3 separate regions of the Homo sapiens genome follow, and regions 1 and 2 are each linked to region 3. The links come from fine-mapping of genetic effects on gene expression. A gene starts in region 3. Each other region holds a variant in brackets. All regions are shown on one strand. Distances are between the middles of the regions. Region 1 holds the start of ATP6V0A2 (ATPase H+ transporting V0 subunit a2). Region 2 overlaps TCTN2 (tectonic family member 2). Region 3 holds the start of TCTN2 (tectonic family member 2).

What was found.
Region 1: its variant is fine-mapped to the expression of TCTN2 in lung (TOPMed, PIP above 0.99). The same link has a PIP of 0.9 or more in fibroblasts, left ventricle and minor salivary gland.
Region 2: its variant is fine-mapped to the expression of TCTN2 in lymphoblastoid cells (GEUVADIS, PIP 0.95).

What each region holds. Positions count from the first base shown.
Region 1 is chr12:123,708,511-123,716,510 of GRCh38, forward strand. It overlaps ATP6V0A2 (ATPase H+ transporting V0 subunit a2), which reads left to right and starts at 3,843. Exons shown (of 20, transcript NM_012463.4): 1 at 3,843-4,172. The coding sequence starts at 4,056. It overlaps LOC105370042 (a long non-coding RNA gene), which reads right to left. Exons shown (of 3, transcript XR_945477.4): 2 at 6,990-7,053; 3 at 4,256-6,224. RefSeq lists a silencer at 3,668-4,217. The variant A/C (reference allele first, on the strand shown) is at 4,223.
Region 2 is chr12:123,688,241-123,696,497 of GRCh38, forward strand. It overlaps TCTN2 (tectonic family member 2), which reads left to right. Exons shown (of 18, transcript NM_024809.5): 8 at 2,293-2,434; 9 at 4,418-4,483; 10 at 6,602-6,736; 11 at 6,980-7,057; 12 at 8,175-8,255. Among named protein-coding and RNA genes, the nearest start is that of ATP6V0A2, 20 kb to the right of the region's middle. The variant A/AT (reference allele first, on the strand shown) is at 5,214.
Region 3 is chr12:123,666,249-123,674,516 of GRCh38, forward strand. It overlaps TCTN2 (tectonic family member 2), which reads left to right and starts at 4,865. Exons shown (of 18, transcript NM_024809.5): 1 at 4,865-5,074; 2 at 5,259-5,366; 3 at 5,808-5,884; 4 at 7,367-7,562. The coding sequence starts at 4,993.

The sequences.
Region 1 (8,000 bases), 42 kb after region 3:
TGTTAGAAATTTTAGCTTATCACAAATTAGTTAAAGTCATAGGAGTTTTATTTATACCAGAGAGAATCAGTCTTTTCTTTAGTTTTTAATACATTCGTGTTGATTGATGTTTCCCATATTCCGTAGAAAGGATTAAGAAATCCTTAAAAATGCATGTAATACAAAAACACAAAATCACTGATGGGGAAAGATATGGGGGCTGCGGGAGGAAAATAATAAGAGAAAAGTAAAACAAAACCAGGGGCACATGTAAGCCCTAAAATACATGCCAGAGGTTGCCTTTAGCAGAAGCAGGCCCCTAATTCATTATTTATTTATTTGTTTTTTGGAGACAGGTTCTCCCTCTGTTGCCCAGGCTGGAGTGCAGTGGCACGATTATAGCTCACTGTAAACTCAGACACCTGGGATCAAGCGATTCTCCCCCAAGTAGCTGGGACTACAGGTGGCACACAGCTACCACGCCTGGCTATTTTTTTTTTTTTTTTTTTTTTTTTTTTTTTTAGTAGATGGGGGTCTCGCTATGTTGCCCAGCCTGGTCTCAAACTCCTGGCTTTAGCGATCCTACCACCTAAGCCTCCCAAAGTGCTGGGATTACCAGCAGGAGCCACTATGCCCAACCAAGACCCCAGTTTACAAAAACCCAAGTATGATTAGCTATAGGAATTATGAAATCTATTCATTAATACAGGAATTATGAAATCTATTCATTAAAAATTAACTGGTTATCAATGAAGGACAGTTTTTCCTAGCTGAGTCTTGACAAATTTCTCCCATGGGCCGTCACATGGGAACAGTCAACCCCACTCAGTGGGGAGAATGGATTTTTTTTTTTTTTTTTTTTTTGAGACTCGGTCTTACTCTGTTACCCAGGCTGGAGAGCTGGAGAGCAGTGGCACAATTACGGCTCACTGCAGCCTCGACCTCCTGAGCTCAAGTGATCCTCCCACCTTAGCCTCCCAAGTAGCTGGGACCACAGGCTTGTACCTGGCTAGTTTTTGTATTTTTTTTTTTTGTAGAGAAGGGGGTCTCCCTATGTTACCCAGGCTGGTCTCGAACTCTTAGGCTCAAGTGATCTACCTGCCTTAGCCTCCCAAAGTGCTGGGATTATAGGTATGAGCTGCTGTGCCCAGCCCTGGAATAGATGTTTTTAGCCACGGTCCTACAGTGGCCACATGGCACATCACCTGTAAGTTTTCTTTGTGTGCCAGGTAACTTAGTTGTTTCAGATGGATTTTCTATGTTATTTAAGCCTAATTTTGAAAAATAATTATTTTCCCTTTTATACTTTTTGATCGAATTCCTAGTGCCTGCTGATACCCAGCACCACATAAAATGTGCTGTTTCATCTTCGCTGCAGAGTTCCTGCCCAGGGGCAATTTCAAATTTTCCTCCAGTCTTAAGTCCATTTTCTTTTTTCTTTTTTTTTTTGAGACGGAGTCTTGCTCTATTGCCCAGGCTGGAGAGCAGTGGCGTGATCTTTGCTCACTGCAAGCTCCGCCTCCCGAGTTCACGCCATTCTCCTGCCTCAGCCTCCTGAGTAGCTGGGACTACAGGCACCCACCACCATGCCCAGCTAATTTTTCGTATTTTTAGTAGAGACGGAGTTTCACTGTGTTAGCCAGGATGGTCTCGATCTCCTGACCTCGTGATCCACCCGCCTCGGCCTCCCAAAGTGCTGGGATTACAGGCATGAGCCACTGCGCCCGGCCTGAGTCCACTTTCAAATAGGGGGATGAGCTAGTCACTGCAGAGGTCCTAAGTTTCTGCATGATGGAAATACCGTGAATTTCAGCATCTGTACTGTGGTGGTGTTGGGCCTTCACCCGACCCCTCTAGGGCTGACTCAGGAATCTGGGTCAGTACTGGACTGACGGAGCTGGGGTCTGAGTCAATTATTGTCTGAACTTCAGCCTTTGAATTCACCTTCACAGTTCTTACTGTATCTTTTTGTTGTTGTTGTTTCTTTTGAAACAGAGTGTCACTCTGTTGCCCAGGCTAGAGTCCAGGGATGCCATTTCAGCTCACTGCAAGCTCCACCTCCCAGGTTCAAGCGATTCTCTTGCCTCAGCCTCCCGAGTAGCTGGGACTACAGGTGCCCACCACCACGCCTAGCTAATTTTTATATTTTTTTAGTAGAGACGGGGTTTTGCCATGTTGGCCAGGCTGGTCTCAAACTCCTGACCTCAAGTGATCCACCTGCCTCAGCCTCCCAAAGTGCAGGGATTACAGGAGTGAGCCAGGGCACCCAGCCTAGTGTAACTAGCTTTGGATTTCAGGTATTTATGGAAAATAAATTTAAAACTTCCAAATGACAGGTAATTTAGCTTGATTTTGTGGGCTTTGTGAGGACGCCTTTTGTACTTAAAAGAAGGAAAAAACTCAGTTTGGCAGAATGGGGTCTGGAGTGTCTATGGTTTTAACTTTTTTAAGTTTATACATTTATGTATGCATTCATGAACTATTTATTGAGTGGCTACTATGTGCTGGGGCTTGGAGATACCACAGTGGCAGAAACAATGTCCCCACCTTGGTGGAGCTTCCATTCTAGCAGGGAAGACTGGCACTAACACACAGACAAGATAATTTCAGATGGTGGCAGGTGCAGTGAAGGAAATAGAACAAGGATGTGACTCCAGGGACAGTCTCAAGGAAGGGGATATGTAAGCAGAGACTCGACTGGGACAGCGGTGAGGTTGCGGCCTGGGGCGGGGGGCCACTGCTTCCCGGTCAGTGTGGGGAACACACACTGGGTGCTGTGTGATTCCATCGACAGGACAAGCCTGGAGGTGGCAAATTTAGCGAGACAAAATTGTCCTGTGGTGGCCAGGCCGGGCGGGAAGGGGAGACTGCAACTGAGCAGGAGGAGTCTTGCGAGGTCGGTGGGAAATGTTTGAAAACTGGATTGGGATGCTGGCTGCACACTCCAACTTCACGAAGAAGCCTAGGATCCCTCCGGGCGGCGGATCACGCCTGTAATCCTAGCGCTTTGGGAGGCCAAGGCGGGAGGATTGCTTGAGTTCAGGAGTTCGAGACCAGCCTGGCCAACATGATGAAACCCCTTCTCTATAAACATTTTAAAAACAAATTAGCCGGGTGTGATGGCGCGCGTCTGTAATCCCAGCTCCTCCAGAGGCTGAGGTGGGAGGATCGCTTGAGCTCAGGAGGTCAAGGTTGCAGCGAGCCGAGCTCGTGCTACTGCACTCCTCCCTGGGCCACAGAGGGAAACCCTATCCATAAAAAACCAGCAGCAGGGCCGGGCGCAGTGGTTCACGCCTGTAATCCCAGCACTGCGGAGGCCGAGGCAGGCGGATCACCTGAGCTCTGGAGTTTTGAGACCAGCCTGGCCAACATGGTGAAACCCCGTCTCTATTAAAAATACAAAAAAATTAGCTGGACGCGGGTGGCGCGCGTCTGTAGTCACAGCAACTGGGGAGTCTGAGGCTGGAGAATCGCTTGAACCTGGGAGACGGAGGTTGCAGTGAGCCGAGATCGCGCTACTGCACTCCAGCCTGTGGGACTGCGTGAGATTCCGTTTCTCTCTCTCTCTCTCTCACACACACACACACACACACACGCAGCAGCACAGGGTCGTGCACTAGGAACGGGTGAGCTTCGCGGCGTGCACACTCGGCGAGACTCCTCCAGGAAAGCCGGGGAGCCGCGCGGGATTTAGCTCTGCGTCCAGTCCGGCGGAGCGCCAGCTGCAGTGGTCGTACCCGCCGGGTTCGCGCTGGTTGGCCCTGCCGCCACGTCGTGCGGCGACAACCTCGGGCGTCCATTGGTCGGCCGGCGGGGGGGGCGGGACGCGGGGGCGGAACCGGAACCGGCAGTGGCTTGGGGGCGGGACCTCGCGGACTGCTGTGGCGGCAGCTGGAGCGGCGGCCGCGGTGGCAGAACCGGGGGCGGCCGCTGCAGTCTGGAGCCCCATAGTGCGGGGCCGCGGCCAGGCCACAGGAAGAGCTCGAGGCCCGGGCCGCACCGGCTGAGTGTGCGGGCCCGCGCGGCTCGGAGCCGCCGCCGCCCATCGAGCCCCTCCGGGCGCGGGTCGGCCCGCCATGGGGTCCCTGTTCCGGAGCGAGACCATGTGCCTGGCGCAGCTCTTCCTGCAGTCGGGCACGGCCTACGAGTGCCTCAGCGCCCTGGGCGAGAAAGGCCTGGTCCAGTTCCGAGACGTGAGTGTCGCCCGGGAGACGCGGGCCGCACCTGCTCTCCTGGCGCCCCC[A/C]ATCCCGCGCATCGCTGGGGCCCTCCCGCGGGGAGCACCGAGGAAGGGCGCGCCCCGTCCCCATTGTCCAGACGGGGAAGATGACACCCCAGCTCAGCGGCCAAAGCTTCCCGGAGCGCGGGGCTGACTCCAGGGTCGCCGGCCGTCTGTGTGGTCGGCGGCTGCTCTGCCCCAGTTAGTTAGGATCGCCCGTGTGGTCTTCATCAGCTCCGGGCACCGAGCTCAGCGGGAGAACAAATCCCACAAAGGCCTCTTGGAGTCCTTTTGGAACTTTACGGGGGTTAGGGGGGCGCATTAACCAAATAAATAGGTCAACCAGAAAAGGTTTGCCATAAAGAAGAAACGGGGTGATGTGAAGGTGATTCGGGCGGGAGGTGAGTGTGAAGGGATTGTCGAGGAAGCCTCCCGGAGAAGGTGATATTTCAGCTGAGACCCAAATAGAAAGGAGCCAGCCGTGGGGAAGATCTGGGGAGAGGGTCCTTGTTGGAGGGAACAGGAGGAGCCCAGACAGAGCCAGAAATGGGAAGGAGCTGGATGTCATCTGCTTGAGGAGAGGGATTTTTGTGTTTTGGTCACTGATGCTTAATGCTGTACATACCATTGTGTGTAAGGACTTAAGAACTCAGTCATTGTTTGTCGAGTGGAAGCTGTCTCCCCAACAAGTAATAATAAACATTTGTTTGTCCATTTACTTGTTTATTGTTTGTCTCCACCAAGGACTGTCAACCTCTGAGAGTAAGTACCTTAACGCAGTCCTTGGCAGTCATTGGCATCGATAGGCATTTGTTGAATGAACAGACAAGCTTTTCTTGACTGCCCGCTATGTTCAGGCACTGTTTTTGGTGCTGGAGACTCGGTGGTGAGCAAGGCAGACACAGTCCCTGTGTTCCTGGAGCTTCCAGTGTGGGAGGAGACAGATTAAACACACTCTGATTATGAGCTGTGATAAGTGCTAAGAAGGCAAAGAACAGGGTGTGGAAGGGAGACCGTGAAGCAAGTACTTACTGACTGAATTGAAATCCACTCAGGCGAACATTTTATTTCCTGGCCACCACTTTCATCTCCTGACTGTTTCCCTTAATCTTCCTAAGGTGTCCTTAATTTCAAAAGGGATCAGCCCTACCCGAGATCTGATATCCATTGATATCAGATATCTAATACCAGATCAGCCCCATAAGGCAGTTGCAAAGTCATGGAGAGACTCCTGAGTGACAGGCGAGGGTGCAGGTAAGATGCAGGGCGGTTCCTGGTTCCTGGAGCCACTTCTGCAGTTGTACCCATTCACCTGATGGATGCTGCGCTGAGCTGTGAATAGCACCCAAAACATTCAGGCAACAGCTGCAGGTGCAGCAGGCTCCTACATTTGTAACAGGTAGATGTTTTCCTTCCGGTTAGTACTCAAGCCAAGACACTTATCACACTTCAGTCTTACAGGTTTGAGCAAACGTACTAATCACTATGAAGGTTCCAGTTTCAATAAGCGCCACTACCTCCAGTCATAGAGTGTACCTGGGATCCTTTTCAACTGAATGTCAGTGAAAGGAGAAGAAAGTGCTGTTCATCTTTTTCCAGAAGGAAGTAAAACTAAGGTTGCTGCGATGAGCTCTTGTGTGGTGCTAGGTTTTCAGTGTGTCTTCAGCCTGAGTTTCCTACTGACTTTGTGGTGACCAGATGGGATCACTGTTAGTAACCCTTGCAAGGGAAAGGGGGGCAGGTGGTGACTTCCGTGGTGACAGCTAGTGGGAAGTACCTGGAAAAGAAAGGTCATTCAGCTGATGGGGAGGACTCCCTGAAGGGAAAGTTCGCACTTTTGTTACAGTTCTCAGTCTAAGAACAGGTTTCCTCTTTAGTCCTTCAGCTGAAGTGGGAGTATCAATGGCTGTGAATATCAAAACAAACAGCACCAGATCTCCTCTGCCGGTTTTACTAGGTTAAATGTGCCTTGAATTGAATCTACATTAAAATGTACCTTATTCCATTAGCCTTGAATTAGGGTGCTGCCCTAAAAGGGAAAAAAAACCCAAAATTTATAAAAGAAACCACACAATAGAAAAAAAAAGTTAATATGTCTGGGCACGGTGGTTCACGTCTGTAATCCCAGCACTTTCGGAGGCCAAGGCGGGCAGATCACAAGGCCAAGAGTTCGAGACCATCCTGGCCAACATGGTGAAACCCTGTCTCTACTAAAAATACAAAAATTAGCTGGGCATGGCGGGGTGTGCCTGTAGTCCTAGCTACTCTCAGAAGGCTGAGGCAGGAGAATCACTTGAACCCAGGAGGCAGAGGTTGCAGTGAGCTGAGATCGCGCCACTGCACTCCAGCCTGGCAACAGAGCGAGACTCCGTCTCAAAAAAAAGTTAATATATGTAAGCTGGTGATGGTGGTGTATGTATGTGAAATCCATGTTTGTATTATTGCCACAGAAATTTACCTCTTTATAAATAAAGATTCTACTATTTGTAGAAACATCATGCCCATTTAGAGTTAAGTACTATTTGATATTGAAGGAAGAAAATGAAAGCTGAGAAGTAGTATCCTGTGACAGCTTTAGACACAGAACTTCCTTTCCAACAAGTTCCATAGAACTAGATTGTGTCTGAATCATTAGTAACTTGGAAGTGGTTACTTTTAGTTCGACCTCCAGAAATGAATGAGAAGGTGACAAACAGAAGTGAAATGAGAATTTTTACCTTTTTTCTGGTTCTTTTAAAAAAAAAGTCCCCAAAAAATGAACAAGAACTGAGTCAGACACTGAGTAGACACTTACCAGGTTGAGCAGTTTCATGTCAAGTTGTATCTTAACTGTTTCTTGAGAGTGCCCAGTACAAATCCTGGATGGAATAAAGATAAATTTCGTGTCTTAAATGGCTTTCAACATGAATGATATACTGTAAATTGTTGAAGTATGAAAGTGATAGATGACCATTGTGAGAAATGTGGAAAACATAAGAATAGTAACATACCTTGCATGATCCCAACGCCTAGAAATTAACTTTAACTTTTTGGCTAATACTGGACAATCAGCATTTCTCTAATAATGTTTAAAAATGTCCATATATATGTATTTTTATATAATTTGAACCACACTGAAAACATCCTAATCTGCTTTACACAGAAATCATGACTAACTTCCTAATTTTATTAAATATTCTTTTACAACTTTTTAAAATTGTTTTAAACTTTATATTATAAGTAGAGGGAAGAGTACAGTGTACCCCCATGTACCCATAAATGTAAACTTAGTTTTTTCTCACTTCCCAGACTAGATCATTTTGAAGCAAATCCAAGATATATAATTTAACTTTTCAACAAGTACCTCTAAAAGATGAATTTTTTTTCTTTTTTTTTTTTGAGATGGAGTCTCAATTCTGTCGCCCAGGATGGAGTGCAGTGGCGCGATCTCAGCTCATTGCAACCTCTGCCTCCCAGGTTCAAGTGATTCTCATGCCTCAGCCTCCTGAGCAGCTGAGATCACAGGCGCGCGCCACCACGCCTGGCTAATTTTTGTATTTTTAGTAGAGACGGGGTTTCACCATGTTGGCCAGGCTGGTCTCCAACTCCTGACCTCAAGTCATCCCCCCACCTTGGCCCCCCAGAGTGCTGGGATTACAAGCATGAGCCACCAGGCCTGGCCTAGAAGATAAAAAATTATTACCAACATTGTACCTGAAAATTTAAATAACATTTCTTAATATAATCAAATACCTGGTCATTTTTACACAACTTTATTGAGGTGTATGGTAGAGTTTACCCATGATTTTTAGAAAGTTTATGGAGG
Region 2 (8,257 bases), 22 kb after region 3:
AGTCTCGCTCTTACCTCCTAGGCTCAAGTGCAGTGCCAGATCTCGGCTCACTGCAACCTCTGCCTCCCGGGTTCAAGTGATTCTCCTGCCTCAGCCTCCCCAGTAGCTGGGACTACAGGTGTGTGCCACCGCACCCAGCCAATTTTTTGTATTTTTAGTACAGACGGGGTTTCACCATGTTGACCTGGATGATCTCGATCTCTTGACCCTGTGATCCTAGTGCCTCAGCCTCCCAAAGTGCTGGGATTACAGGCATGAGCCACCATGCCTGGCCACTAGACCCTTCTTTTATTTTTCCTGTCCTATTGTTAATTTAAGTCATATTTCTCTTTAAAATCTCTTTTTAAGTTACTTACTTTCCTCCTTTCTACCTTTCAGGGACTTAACTGTTTATGTTCTCCAAATTAATAAAATATATAGTCACTCTTAATCACTGTCTTTGCTTAAAACTCAGAGTGAACTTACAAAATAAAACCAAAAGATTTTCTATAAGTTTCCATGGAAGTACCTATCATTCTTTTTCTTTTTTTTTGAGACAGAGTTTCGCTGTTTTTGCCCAGGCTGGAGTGTAATGGCACAATCTCAGCTCACCGCAACCTCTGCCTCCCGGGTTCAAGCGATTCTCCTGCCTCAGCTTTCCCAAGTAGCTGGGATTACAGGCATGCACCACCACGCCCAGCTAATTTTGTATTTTTAGTAGAGACGGGGTTTCTCCATGTTGGTCAGGCTGGTCTCGAATTCCTGACCTCAGGTGATCTGCCTGCCTCAGCCTCCCAAAGTGCTGGGATTACAGGCATGAGTCTTTTTTTTTTTTAAATTAAAAAAATTTGTTTTGGTTTGAGACATAGTCTTGCTCTGTCACCTAGGGTGGAGTGCACTGGCGTGATCTCAACTCCCTGCAGCCCTGACCTCCCACATTCAAGTGATCCTCCTACCTCAGCTTCCCAAGTAGCTGAGACTACAGGCACATGCCACCATTCCTGGCTAATTTTTTGTAGAGGTGGGGTTTTGCCATGTTGCCCAGGCTGGTCTTTTTAACTTCTGGGCTGAAGTGACCTGCCCACTTTGGCCTCCCAATGTGCTGGGATTACAGGCTTGAGCCACCGCGCCCAGCCAAAAATTTTTCTGTAGAGATGGGGGTTTCACTATGTTGCCCAGGCGGGTCTTAAACTCCTGGCCTCGAAATTCTTCTGCCTTGGCCAAAGTGTTGGGATTACAGTGTGAGCCTTGATGCCTGGCTAGCAGTAACTATCATTCTTTGCTTCTTTTTCTTTTTATATTTTTATTTTAGGTTCAGGGCTACATGAGCAGGTTTGTTATATAGGTAAACTTGTGTCATGGGGTTTTGTTGTACAGATTATTTGTCACCCAGGTACTAAGCCAAGTACCCAATAGTTTTTTTCTGATCCTCTCCCTCCTCCTACTCACTACCCTCAAGTAGGGTCCGGTATAAAAAACAATGGTTAGATAAATACATCATTTTATTTACCATTCTAGAATTTTGAAAAATATTTTAAGGCTGTAAGGTTGTATATGGAATCATTTGTATATCTATATATGAATGCACAAGTGAATGAATGACAGGGTCTTGCTCTGTCGCCCAGGCTGGAGTGTAGTGAGTGTAGTCACAGCTCACTGCAGCCTCCATCTCATGGGCTCAAGCAATCCTCCCACCTCAGCCTCCCAAGTAGCTGGGACTATAGGTGCATGCCATTATACCCGGTTAATTTTTTACTTTTTGTAGAGACAGGGTCTTGCTATGTTGCCCAGGTTGGTCTTGAACTCCTGGGCTCAAATGATTCTCCCACTACAGCCTTCCAAAATGATGGGATTACAGGTGTGAGCCACTGCTCCCAACCTGAAATCTTTTTTTAAGTTCAACATTATGAGGAGTGTTATTTGTGGGAAGAAAGCATGGGAGGTGAAAATTTCTCTTTCCTATTCATATGAATCCATTTTTATGGTATTAAACTCTGGTTGTGATGAGGGAGAGAACATGAAGTTAAATATAGTCATGTCTCTGCAAACTAAATAGAACAGGACAAGGGATTTTCTTTGTTTTTATTAGACAATATTTACTGTGACTCCACAACCAGTGGCTTCCAGACCTTGATGGGCAAATCAGTTAGATGTTTTGCTAAAGCGGGTCAACTAGTCGGTGAACTTGCCGTTGCTGAAACCAGACCAGCAATGGGAGCAGGCTGCAGAAAGACCAGTTTTAAGGGATGCTGATCTGTTTTGTATGATTAGGAGAGAGGCCATAAATCTGTTGGCTTTGCCCTTCTCCCTCAGGTGTCCCTGGCTGGGCAGTGTATGCAGAACGCCCCAGTGGCATTTCTTCACAATTTTGATGTTAAATGCGTTACTAATTTGGAACTATACCAAGAACGAGATGGTATTATCAATGCGAAGATAAAGAATGTTGCCTTAGGAGGTATGTTACATTTCTTTGAAAAAAGAACACAGGCCCAAACATGAATATAAAGTATGATCTCATGAGAGTATAAATCATTTCTACTGGTTCAACTTCAAATAATATTTGAACTGCCAATTATTTTCTTTGGAAAAAGTTTAGTTCCGTAAGACAGCATATTGCATATTAATTATTTTGAAATTGAAGTAAAATTCAAATAACATAAATTTAGCCTTTTTGTTTGTTTCTCCGTCACGCAGGTTGGAGTGCAGTGGCGTGATCTCGGCTCACTGTACCCTCTGCCTCCTAAGTTCAAGCGATTCTCCTGCCTCAGCTTCCCGAGTAGCTGGGACTACAGGTGCCTGCCACCATGACTGGCTAATTTTTGTGTTTTTGGTAAAGATGGGGTTTCACTGTGTTGGCCAGGTTGACCTTGAACTCCTGACCTCAGGTGATCCACTCTCCTAGGCCTCCCAAAGTGCTGGGATTACAGGTGTAAGCCATCGCGTCCCACCAGAATTAACCCTTTTAAAGTGTACAATTCATTGACATTAGTACCTTCCACACTGTTGTGCCACCATCACCTCTCTCTAGTTCCAGAACGTTTCATCGCCTCAGAAGGGCATCTGTACCCATTAGCAGTCACTCCCTACCCCTCTTCCCTCAGCTCCTGGCAGCCACCAATCTGCTTTCTGTCTCCGTGGATTGCTTATTCTGGGTGTTCCCTAGAAACAGAATCATACACTATGTGGCCTTTTGTGTCTGGCTTCTTTCACTGAGCATGGTGTTCCATGGTTCATCCGTGTTTGTAGTGTGTGGCAGCACTTCATTCCTTTTTATGGCTGAATCATAGTCCATTGCATGGACAGAGCACATTGTGTTTGTCCATTCCTCAGTTGATGGACATGTGGGTTGTTTTCATCTCTGACTGTTGTGAATAGTGCTGCCATGAACACTCGTGTCCAAGTTTTTGCGTAGATGTGTGTTTTTATTTCTTTTGGGTAGACACCTAGGAGTGGAACTGACAGGTCATGCTAATATGACTTCTTGAGGACCCACCAAATTGTTTTTTTTTTGTTTTTTTGGTTTTTTTTTTGAGAGGGAGTCTTGCTCTGTCACCCAGGCTGGAGTGCAGTGACGTGATCTCGGCTCGCTGCAACCTCCACCTCCCTGGTTCAAGCGATTCCCCTGCCTCAGCCTCCCAAGTAGCTGAGATTACAGGCATGTGCCACCACACCTGGCTAATTTTTTTTTTTTTGAGACCAAGTCTTGCTCTTGTCCGCCAGGCTGGAGTGCGATGGCGCGATCTCGGCTCACGGCAACCTCCACCTCCTGGGTTCAAGCGATTCTCCTGCCTCAGCCTCCCGAGTAGCTGGGATTACAGGCACCCACCACCACGCCCTGCTAATTTTTGTATTTTTAGTAGAGACGAAGTTTAGTAGAGATGGGATTTCACCATGTTGGCCAGGCAGATCTCGAACTCCTGACCTCAGGTGATCCACCCACCTCGGCCTCCCAGAGTGCTGGGATTACGGGCATGAGCCACCACGCCCGGCTAATTTTTTTGTATTTTTAGTAGAGAGGAGGTTTCACCATGTTGGCCAGACTGGTCTCAAACTGACCTCAGGCAATCTGCCTGCCTCGGCCTCCCAAAGTGCTGGGATTATAGGCGTGAGCCCCTGCGCCTGGCCAATTGTTTTCTACAGTGTCTGCACCATTTTGTATTGCCACCAGCAGTGAACTGCATATTTGTTTTTATGTCACAGTGACCCTGGTTTTTGTTTGTTTGTGTGTTTGTTGTGGATTTTCTTCCTCCGTTATAATTAGATGCTAAGAGGATGGGGACTCCTATCTGATGGTTTTTGGGGAGTGGGGAGGGTTTTGTAGTCAGCACCCTGGGCAGTTGCGGTCACCATATTTGCTTTGTAAGCTATACTTTGAGTAAGTGTGATCATGGTAGGCCATGTGTACGCCTGTGGAAGTTAATTTATGTTATCTCTTTAGGCATAGTTACACCAAAAGTGATCTATGAGGAAGCAACTGACCTAGACAAATTCATCACCAATACAGGTATTTAATGTTACACTTTGACGTCATTTCTTCAGAAACAGATATGTCATTTCTTACAAGTAATATATACCCTCAGAGTGTATATTTTTGTTAGTCATTTAAAAAGGTTCACAATAGTTAGAAAGATCTGCCAGGAACATTTCATTTGTTCCTCGTTCTGTCCTGCTGGGCTTTAGAGTGCTCTCTGTGACCTTGAGCCTGCTCCTCCACAGTCCTGGATTCTCTGAGTTCCACCGACCCTTCTAGTTCCAGCTTCCGTGAACCTTTCCTTAAATGTTTGATAGTTAAATAATTCTTTTTTTTTTTTTTTTTTTTTTTTTGAGGCGGAGTTTTGTTCTTGTCACCCAGGCTGGAGTGCAATGGCATGATCTCGGCTCACTGCAACCTCCGCCTCCTGAGTTCAAGTGATTCTCCTGCCTCAGCCCCCTGAGTAGCTGGGATTATAGTCACCCGCCACCACACCCAGCTAATTTTGTATTTTTAGTAGAGACGGGGTTTCTCCCTGTTGGTCAGGCTGGTCTCGAACTCCCGACCTCAGGTGATCCACTTGCCTTGGCCTCCCAAAGTGCTGGGATTATAGGTGTGAGCCACCGCGCCCGACCAGTTAAAAGAACTTTTTAGGGCACAGCATTTTCACTTTTTGCTTTCTTTCCTTTTTTTTTTTTTTTTTTTTTGATAATTAAACTTTCCAATTGTGATGCAGCCAAATAAGTTACGTAGAGTTTGGCAG[A/AT]TTTTTTTTTTTTTTTTGAGATGGATTCTTGCTCTGTCACCCAGGCTGGAGTGCAGTGGTGTAATCTTGGCTCACTATAACCTCCACTTCCTGGGTTCAAGCAGTTCTCCTGCCTCAGTCTCCCAAGTAGCTGGGATTACAGGTGTTCACCACCATATGCCTGGCTAATTTTTGTATTTTAGTAGAGACGGGGTTTCACCATGTTGGCCAGGCTGGTTTCGAACTCCTGACCTCAGGTGATCCACCTGCCTTGGCCTCCCAAAGTGCAGGGGTTACAGGCGTGAGCCACGGCGACTGGCTCAGTTTGGCTAATTTTACCAGAACTTTAGTTTTTAATGAAGGATACTGTTTGTTTCTTTCTTTTCTTTTTTTTTTTTAATTGGAGACAGAGTCTTGCTCTGTCGCCCAGGCTGGAGTGCAATAGGGTGATCTCAGCTCACTGTACCCTCCACCTCCCAGGTTCAAGCAATTCTCATGCCTTAGCCTCCTGAGTAGCTGGGATTACAGGCACCTGCCACCAATCCCGGCTAATTTTTGTATTTTTTTGTATTTTTTTTTTTTTGAGACAGTCTCACTGTCACCCAGACTGGAGTGTAGTGACACAGTCTCCACTCACTGCAACCTCTGCCTCCTGGGTTCAAACGATTCTTCTGCCTCAGCCTCCCGAGTAGCTGGGATTACAGGTGCCTGCCCCCATGCCTGGCTGATTTTTTGTATTGTTAGTAGAGAGGGGGTTTCACTGTGTTGGCCAGGCTGGTCTTGAACTCCTGACCTCGTGATCTGCCTGCCTCAGCCTCCCAAAGTGCTGGGATTACAGGCGTGAGCCACCGCACCCGGCCTAATTTTTGTATTTTTAGTAGAGACAGGGTTTCGCCATGCTGGCCAGGCTGGTCTCGAACTCTTGACCTCAGGTGATCTGCCCACCTCGGCCTCCCCAAGTGCTGGGTGTCTCTTTCTGATGTGTTGTACTTCTCAAATTTATTCATTGGCTCATCAAATGTTAGTGGAGTTCCTACGCCGTAGTAGGGAACTAGATAGCGGGCCCCTGCCCTGGCGGAACTGACCCTCTGGTCTTTCATCTCACAAACATTTTACCAAGTGCATGCTCCATGGCAAGCTATGAGCCAGGTGCTGGAGATATAGAAATGAAAGGAACAGATCTCATTCTGGGTACTGTGATGGCATAGAGGAGGCAGCTAATGCTGACTTGGTGGGACCAGGGCAGGCTTCCTCAAGGAAGCAGTGACCGTGCCATGTTAGGGAGCTGGAGATAGGGAGGGCAGGGGCAGGGCACTTGGGGAAGGCCACGCAAGCAGAGAGAACCTCCCAGTAACAGAGTCAGGCTCAAAGAGGGTCTTTAATTTATGAACATATTCTTGTATTTGCAGAAACTCCTTTAAATAACGGATCAACCCCTAGAATTGTGAATGTGGAAGAACATTATATTTTCAAATGGAATAATAATACCATCAGTGAAATAAATGTTAAAATTTTTAGGGCAGAGATTAATGCCCACCAGAAAGGTAACTTTGATGAGGGTAGCAAGCATGCTTTCACTGAAAAGTATTTTTTTTTCCTCTTTTCAAGATTCTCATAATTATAACCCATAAAACTAAGTTGGACTTGTTTCTTATGTGCATTTATGATTTAATTAACGAGAGTACACTTTGTATGACAAAATGCAATTTTAAGGTAAACACTATGGAGAATAATTTCTTTTCCTAGTGAAATGGTGCACATTATATTTTATTTTGTTTTATTTCTAGGGATAATGACACAGAGATTTGTAGTAAAATTTTTAAGCTATAATAGTGGTAATGAAGAAGAATTATCTGGAAATCCAGGTAAGATGAGTATATGCCAGTCATTGATCTTACAAACATACTTTAGTTCAACACTCCCAGCCATCAGGATGGTTATAAGTAACTCTCTCCAATTTAGTTTCTGACTCTGACCTTTTTCTTTATTTTCTCTTTTTCTTTTTTTGAGACGGAGTCTTGCTCTGTTGCCTAGTCTGGAGTGCAGTGGCGCAATCTCGGCTCACTGCAACCTGCACCTCCTGGGTTCAAGAGATTTTCTTGCCTCAGCCTCCTGAGTAGCTGGGATTACAGGTGCACACCACCATGCCTGGCTTTTTTTTTTTTTTTTTAATCACACAACACAGGAAGTTTTATTCATCTGCTACTTCTCCAAAGAGAGGCTTGCAGGGTTGCTCACTTTAATATAATTTTTATATTTTTAGTAGAGATAGGCTGTTGTTCACCGTGTTGGCCAGGCTGGTCTTGAATTCCTGACCTCAAGTGATCCCCTGGCCTTAGCCTCCCAAAGTGTTGTGATTACAGGCATGAGCCACTGCCCCAGCCTCTTTATTCTCTGTTGTGGCACTGTATTCATTTTTTTTTTTTTTGAGACGGAGTTTAACTCTTGTCACCCAGGCTGGAGTGCAATGGCACGATTTGGGCTCACTGCAACCTCCACCTTCCAGGTTCAAGCAATTCTCCTGCCTCAGCCTCCCAAGTAGCTGGGATTACAGGTGCCCACCAACACCCTCAGCAAATTTTTGTACTTTTAGTAGAGATGAGGTTTTGCCATATTGGCCATACTGGTCTCGAACTCCTGACCTCAGGTGATCCACCCACCTCGGCCTCCCAAAGTGCTAGGATTACAGGCGTGAGCCACTACGCCTGGCCGACATGGTATTCTTTTTGTGATAACAATGTATTTTTTTTTTTTACATAGTCTGTTGTACATAGTAACAAGTTGCTGTAAATGTGAAGCATTCTTTCTCTTTAGCTACTGTTTTTTTTGAGACCCGAAGTTGCCATCTTTCTCTCAAGGGTATTTTCGAAAGCTTCGCCTATGTGTTTTCTTTCCTTGTGCATGACTCTTGTATTATTTGCAGAGTTAGGGCTTGCTATGCTGGAGGAAACAGGCTCACGTTCCTTTGTTGTGTTTGTCTAGGTTACCAACTTGGCAAGCCTGTCCGAGCTCTAAATATCAACAGGATGAATAATGTCACGACTTTACATCTTTGGCAATCGGGT
Region 3 (8,268 bases):
AAATGTTCCATAAATATCTATTAGGTCCATTTGGTCTATAGTGCAAATTAGGTCTGATGTTTCCTTGTTGATTTTCTGTCTGGATAATCTGTCCAATGCTGAAAGTGGGAGGTTGAAGTCTCCAACTGTTATTGTACTGGGGTCTATCTCTTTCTTTAGCCCTAATAATATTTGCTTTATATATCTGAATGCTTCAGTATTGGCTGCATATATGTTTACAATAGTTATATTCTCTTGCTGAGCCTCTTATTATATAATGACCTTCTTTACCACTTTTTTTTTTTTTTTTTGAGACAGAGTCTCACTCTGTCACCCAGGATGGAGTGCAGTGGCATGATCTCAGCTCATTGCAACCTCCACCTCCCGGGTTCAAGTGATTCTCCCACCTCAGTCTCCCGAGTAGCTGCAATTACAGGCACCTGCCACCACGACCAGCTAATTTTTTTTTTTTTTTTTTTTTAGGCAGAGTCTCGCTCTGTCGCCCAGGCTGGAGTGCAGTGGTGTGTTCTCAGCTCACTGCAAGCTCTGCCTCCCGGGTTCACGCCATTCTCCTGCCTCAGCCTCCCAAGTAGCTGGGACTACAGGCACCTGCCACCATGCCCAGCTAATTTTTTTGTATTTTTAGTAAAGATGAGGTTTCACCATGTTAGCCAGGATGGTCTCAGTTTCCTGACCTCGTGATCCTCCCACCTCGGCCTCCCAAAGTGCTGGGATTACAGGCATGAGCCACCGAGCCCAGCCTAATATTTGTATTTTTAATAGAGATGGGTTTTCGCCATGTTGGCTAGGCTTGTCTTGAACTCCTGACCTCAGATGATCCACTCACCTTGGCCTCCCGAAGTGCTCGGATTGCAGGTGTGAGCCACTGCGCCTGGCCTCTTTTTTTTCTTTTTCTGTGGAGATAGCATCTTGCTGTATTGTCCAGGCTGGTCTTGAACTCCTGGGCTCAAGCAACTCCTGGGTTCCTCTTGCCTCGGCCTCCCAAAGTGTTGGGATTACAGGCATGAGCCATCACACCTAGTCTTAAAATCTATTTTATCTGATATAAGTATATAGCTACTTTTGCTCTTTTTTGGTTTCCATTAGAATATCTTTTTCCATCCCTTTATTTTTAGTCTATGTGTGTCTTTATAGGTGAAGAGTTTTTATAGGCAGCTAATCATTAGGTCTTTTTTTTTTAAATCTATTCAGCCACTCTATGTCTTTTGATTGGAGAGTTTAGTCCATTTACATTCAATGTTATTATTTATAAGTAAGGACTTACTACTGCCATTTTTAAATTTGTTTTCTGATCTTCCCTTCCTCCCTTCCTTCCATCTTCCTTTTTATGAAAGTGATTTTCTCTGGTGGTATGTTTTAATTTCTTGCTTTATATTTTTGTGTATCTGTTGTAGGCTTTTTGATATGAGTTTAGCATGAGGCTTGCAAATACCATCTTATAACCCATTATTTTAAACTGATGACAACTCTGATTGCAAAAACAAGCAGAGAAAACTAATACTCTAACTTCATCCCTCTGATTTTTAACTTTTTGTTTCTACAATATTTATATCTTATTATACTATGTCTTAAAAAGCTGTAGTTATTATTTTTGATAGGTTTGCCTTTTAGTCTACTACTCAAGATATGAATAGTTTACATATTTGTAGAGGTGCCACCTTGGTGATCTTGGGTACGATCTTGGAGAATTCCCTGGATCACCGTTAGCAGTGACGAGTCTGTACAGGTCTGCAGCAACTCGATTCTTGCCTCCTCAGAGGAAAGAATTTGGCCAAGCAGCATAAGGCAGAGTGAGAGACCAAGGCAAAGTTTAAAGCAGGGGTAAACGTTTATTAAAAAGTTTTAGAGCAGGAATGAAAGGAAGTAAAGTACACTTGGAAGAGGGCCAAGCGGGCGACTTGAGAGATTCAAGTGCCCCGTCCGACCCTTCACTGGGGGTTTCTATACATTAGCATGGTTCTGAGGTTTGTGCCCTCCCTTGATTTTTCCTTGGGGTGGGCTGTCTGCATGTCAGTGGCCTGCCAGCACTTGGGAGGGGCCGCATGTGCAGTGTGTTTACTGAAGTTGTGCGCATGCTCATTTGAGGCATTTTCCTTTACCAGTCGAGCCTTCCCAGAGGAAGGTTATATACCAGTTAAAATCTGCCATCTTGCCTCTTACTATGTATGCATGAGCCTGCTTGCCCAACTCCTGAGATCTTATCGGGAAGCTGCTGATCACCAGCTTCAAGTGTTTTCTATCTTTTTTTTTGAGATGAAGTCTCACTCTGTTGCCCAGGCTGGAGTGCAGTAGCGCGATCTCGGCTCACTGCAACATCCGACCCCTGGGTTCAAGCGATTCTCCTGCCTCAGCCTCCCGAGTAGCTGGGAGTACGGGCATGCGCCACCACGCCCAGATAATTTTTGTATTTTTGGGTAGAGATGGGTTTCTCTGTGTTGCCCAGGTTGGTCTTGAACTCCTGGCCTCAAGTGATCCATGTGCCTTTGCCACCCAAAGTGCAGGGATTACAGGCATAAGCCACCAAGCCCGGCCCAGAAATGTTTTCTTTTGGGAGGATTTATCTCTTAATCTTTACCGCTTGGCCTTGCCAACTTAATTTGCAGATTAATTCCCCCCAAAGACAGATGGGGAATAACAGAAATATTTAAGTGTTTGACAGCTTCCTCTTAGTAACGTTCTCCTAGGCTTCATTCCAAGATATCAAGAGAGGTAAACATTTTGCAGTCTTCCAGAGAGGAGCTGAGGTACACGGGAAAAGTTTCATGCTCATGTTACAACTGTAGTGACCCACAGTTTTTCAGGGAGTATAAGAAAAAGATAACACCCAGTGTCAGGCCCTTATAAAGCCTCAACTTTCAGAATCCTTTCACAATGTTAGATTTGCTGATCAATGAATATATAACTGAACATTAAGAGTAATAATGGGGCTGGGTACGGTGGCCCATACCTGTAATCCCAGCACTTTTAGAGGCCAAGGCAGGAGGATCACTTGAGCCCAGGAGTTTGAGACCAGCCTGGGCCACATGGTGAAACCCCGTCTCTATAAAAAATACAAAAATTAGCCGGGTGTGGTGGTGTATTGCCAGTTACTTGGGAGGCTGAGGTGGGAGGATCAGCTGAGCCCAGAAGTTTGAGGATGCAGTGAGCTATGATTGTGCCACTGCACCATTCCAGCCTGGGTGACAGAGTGAGACCCTGTCTCAAAAAGAAAAAAAAAAAAGACTAATAATGGCAAACATTTACTTGGCATTTACCGTCAGTCAGCCACAATGCTGAACACCATGATTGTCTCAGCTAAAGGATACACCACCTCTCTGATAGTTAACAAGTAACTGATCATTAACTGAGTGCTTACTGTATGCCAGCCATTGGTTTAACCTCATTAGATATGTTACCTCATTTCATCCTCACACAATCCCCAAGGAAGGATTATTATCATCCCTTTTTTATAGATGAGGAAGCTGAAACTTAGAGAGGTTGACTTGCCCAAAGTCACTTAACAGCTGAGAATATCTGTGGAGGGAAGGCGAAATCCCATGCCAGGCAGCCTGACCTCAGACCCTGCACTCTCAGTCCCCAAGCCGTGACAATATTTGAAATGTTCTGAGGCTACTGATATAAGAAAAAACAATTTTTTTCCAGACAGAATTTTGATTCTTTCACATCTGTCCTATTGCTGGGCAAAACCTCTTGTGTGTTCTGTGATTGGATCTGCTTTCAGAGTGCTGAGAGCTCTGTGCAGGGGAGAAAATCCTTCAAAAACCTAGGAGAATGATAATAAAAGCAATAGTGATAATAAATGATAATGATAAGAATTATAAAAATATAAATTTTATAAAATTATAACATATAAGTATAAAATTTACAAAATATATACTTATATAAAAGATAAATATATATAAGATAAAATATAAATACATATATATTTTATAAGATAAATAAATAAATAAATATATTTTTGAGACGGAGTCTGGCTCTGTCGCCCAGGTTTGAGTGCAGTGGTGCAATCGCGGCTCACTGCAACCTCCGCCTCCCAGATTCATACAATTCTCCTGCCTCAGCCTCCTGAGTAGCTGGGATAATAGGCGCCTGCCACCACGCCTGGCTAATTTTTTGTATTTTTAGTAGAGACGGGGTTTCACCATGTTGATCAGGCTGGTCTCAGACTCCTGACATTGTGATCCGCCCGCCTCGGCCTCCCAAATTGCTGGGATTACAGGCATGAGCCGCCAGACCCGGCCTATATGTATTTTATATATATCAAGTATGTATATCTGATATATATATATAAAACAAAGTATATCTATTTTGTAAATATATATTTATTTTATAAAAATATAAAATATAAATAATACATCATAAACGATAGTAAAGATAATAAACACAGCGCGGCAGCCCCATCCCCTTTTTCTACTCACCCCTAAAACAAATCCGTATAAAAATCAAGTTTATTAAGGAGCAAGTCCCACCCTTTTTATTTAGAAGCCAGTGTCTATAGGATCGCTCTTGGCTATTGTTGGATTAATTCCAGGGTAGGGGAAAACTCCAGTTTTTGAGCCGGACACGCACTCCTGCTTTTCAGGACCTTTTTAATTTTGATGTTTTCAACTTTTAGGCCCAGGGGTCCATGTACAGGTTGCTATATAGGTAAATTGCGTGTCACGGGGGTTGGGTGCACAGATTGTTTCGTCACCCAGGTACTAAGTGGAGCACCGGATAGGTAGTTTTTCAGCCCTCACTCTCCCCACCAGAGTCAAGCAGCAAAAATGCTAGGCCTTGTGGGCGGGGCCGGGGTGCCCGCTCTTGCCACTGGTCCAATCACAGCGCGGCGTTCCTCCTGGCCGGCCGCCGATTGGTGGTTGCCATAGCTCCGGGCGTTCGCTTGCAAGATGGCGGCGGCGGGGCAGTGGCTGCTGCGTTTTCGTGTCTGAGTCCTTCCTGGGTTCTAATGAGGGCGCGGTTCTGCTGTGCCCGGCCCGCGAGGTCTAAGGCATGGGCTTCCAGCCTCCGGCCGCTCTTCTTTTGAGGCTTTTCCTTCTGCAGGGCATCCTGAGGCTTCTGTGGGGGGACCTGGGTGTGTACGGCGCGGCAGTGACCTCGGTGGGCCGGGGCTGAGGGGACTGGGCGTTAAAAGGGCCAGACTTGGACTCCCCCGGGAGCTTCGGGAGTCGACAACGCCAAAGCAAGCCGCCACACACACCTTAGGCGGTGATTCTTCCACTGCTAACCCCTCCTTGTCCCCTTTCCTTCCCGCCTAGCTTTCATCCCTCCTTTTATCCGAATGTCCGGCCCTGCGGTCAGCGCGTCCCTGGTCGGAGACACCGAGGGTGTGACCGTGTCCCTGGCAGTGCTGCAGGACGAGGCGGGTAAAGTCCGGCCCTCTTTTGGGGAGGGTGGGGGTTGGACTGGATCCAGACCTCCCAAGGAGCCTGGAGAGGTGGCATCCTTGGGGCCCCCTGCCTCTGTTCTCTGCAAAGTCGCATGGGGAGAAAAGGATCGGGCGGCTGCTGTAGGCCAAAGAGGACAGACGGACAGGTTCGAAGAAAGCCTGAAATAATAATGGTTAGCATTCATTGAGCTAACATCGTGCATCATCCCATTTTCCTAGTAAGAACAGTAATATCTTTTCATCCCCTTTGACCAAGGAAGAAACAAGTTCAGAGAGGTTGTCACTGTCCCAGTGTCAAGCAGCTTGTAAAGGGCCCAATCTTAGGCTGTAATGTGAGTCCATCCTAGGCAGTCTGACTCAATGCACCCCCTGAGCTGCTGGACCTTGCTGCCTTTGCATGCTGGTCTTCTTTCTTTAGGAATATTGCCAATTCCGACGTGTGGAGTGCTGAACAATGAGACGGAAGACTGGAGCGTGACTGTGATCCCCGGTGCGGTAAGGCCAGAAGTAAACCTTCTCTGTAGCCTGTGAAGAGGCCCCCAGCTAGGGTTTCTGCAGTGCTCTCTTTATTTAACAAGGCATGGCTTTCTCCATGCTCTCAACAATCATGAAATTGTGGGCTGTTGGATCTGGTAGACACTTATCCAGCCCACGGGTTCCTTACCCTGGGGTTAGGAGTCCTTGGATGTATTTCAGTGGGTCTGTGAACTCTATGAAATTGTATGTAAAGTTCTGTGTGTATGTGCATTTTTCTGATGAGAGGGTCACCAGTTTCCTTTAGATCATCAAATGGGTCAGTGATTCAAAAAAGCTTTATGCCAGGCATCGTGGCTCACGCCTGTACTCATAGCGCTTTGGGAGATTGAGGCGGGAGGATTGCTTGAGCCCAGGAGTTCCAGACCAGCCTGTAACATAGCGAGACCTCGTCTCTACAAAACAATTAAAAAAAAAATTAGGTGGGTGGCGTACACCTACAGTCCCAGATACTTGGAGGGGGGTGGGGTAGCTGAGGCAAGAGGATTATTTGAGCCCAGGAGTTCAGGGCTGCAGAGAGCTATGATCGCACCACTGCACTTCATCCAGCCTGGGCAACAGAGCAAGACCCTGTCTCTTAAAAAAAAAGAAAAAGCTGGTCAGGCGCGGTGGCTCACGCCTGTAATCCTAGCACTTTGGGAGGCCGAGGAGGGCGGATCATCTGAGGTCAGGAGTTCAAGACCAGTCTGGCCAACATGGTGAAACCCATCTCTACTAAAAATACAAAAATTAGCTGGGCGTGATGGCGGGTGCCTGTAATCTCAGCTACTTTGGAGGCTGAGGCAGGAGAATCACTTGAACCCGGGAGGCAGAGATTGCAGTGAGCCGAGATCACGCCACTGCACTCCAGCTTGGGTGATGAGCGAGACTCCGTCTCAAAAAAAAAAGCTTCATAACCACTGATCTTGCCCAACTCTGAGCTTATGTGTAAGGATACTCAAACCTGGAGAGATTAAGCATCTTCTATTTAATAAGTGTTTATTGGATACCTAGTATATGCAACATCAATTCTGGAGAGAAAAGGACAGGAAAGACAAGCTCTGCTTGTACCCCAGGAGTGAACATGTACATGTCTAAAGTCATTCTGGGATAAACTGAGGATTGTTTTCATTGACTTTTTTTGTGTATTTACTCTTCCACTGATAGGATGATAAAGAAACTAAAAAGGTGTACAATAAACTGAGTTTATTTATCAGATCTGTGTTTAGCTTTCTCTAAGTATCCCGAAGTTGTTTGCTTTTATGTTAAGGAAGAAGAATCAGGGCTTGCATGTTACCATAGGTTTATGGGGGGGAACTGAAGATAACTGTGTCATCTCTGTATACATTTCCCTTTTATAAAATGAACGGAGGCTGATGTGTACTTTTATTGTGTTTTCCATTATGTATTCTTATAGACCCTGTTTTGAGTCACTTTAAAAATACAGCAATGTTTTCCTTTCAGAAGGTGTTGGAAGTGACAGTGAGGTGGAAGAGAGGTCTGGACTGGTGTTCCTCCAATGAGACAGATTCCTTCTCAGAGTCCCCCTGTATCCTCCAGACCCTTCTGGTTTCAGCATCTCATAATTCATCCTGTTCAGCACATCTACTCATTCAAGTGGAAATTTATGCCAACTCTTCTCTGACCCATAATGCCTCAGGCAAGTGAAGTCTTTGACTGTCAAAACTTTCATGTTGTTCCCAGCTACTTAGGAGGAAGAGGTAGGAGGATTGCTTGAGCCCGGGAGGTTGATGCTATAAATGAGCTGCCCGGGAGGTTAATGCTACAAATGAGCTGTGATCGCGCCACTGCGTTCCAGCCAGGGTGACAGAGTGGGACCCTGTCTCAAAAAAAACCAAAAACAAAAACAAAAAAAGAAAAATTTGTGTCAAGCTTACCTGTTTGATTATAAGTGTATGCCATGCAATTTGTAAAGTATACTTCACTTGAGTCTGTCTTGCTTTTCTAAACTTATTTTTCTTTTGTTTAGTTTTCTTTTAAGAAATTTCATTTTGTACTATTTTATTTAACATTTATTTGATCTTTCTCTACTGTTTGCATCTTTATAAGCTACCTTGAATCCTTTTTGGGAGAAGGTGAAATTTGTTTATGTACATTGATTCTCTCTCTTTTTTTTTTGAGATGGAGTCTAAGTCTGTCACCAGGCTGGAGTGCAGTGTTGTGATCTCGGCTCACTGCAACCTCCACTTCCTGGGCTTAAGCGATTCTCCTGCCTCAGCCTCCCGAGTAGCTGGGACTACAGGCTCACGCTACCACGCCCAGCTAATTTTGTACTTTTAGTAGAGATGGGGTTTCACCATGTTGGCTGGGATGGTCTTGATCTCCTGACCTTGTGATCCGCCTGC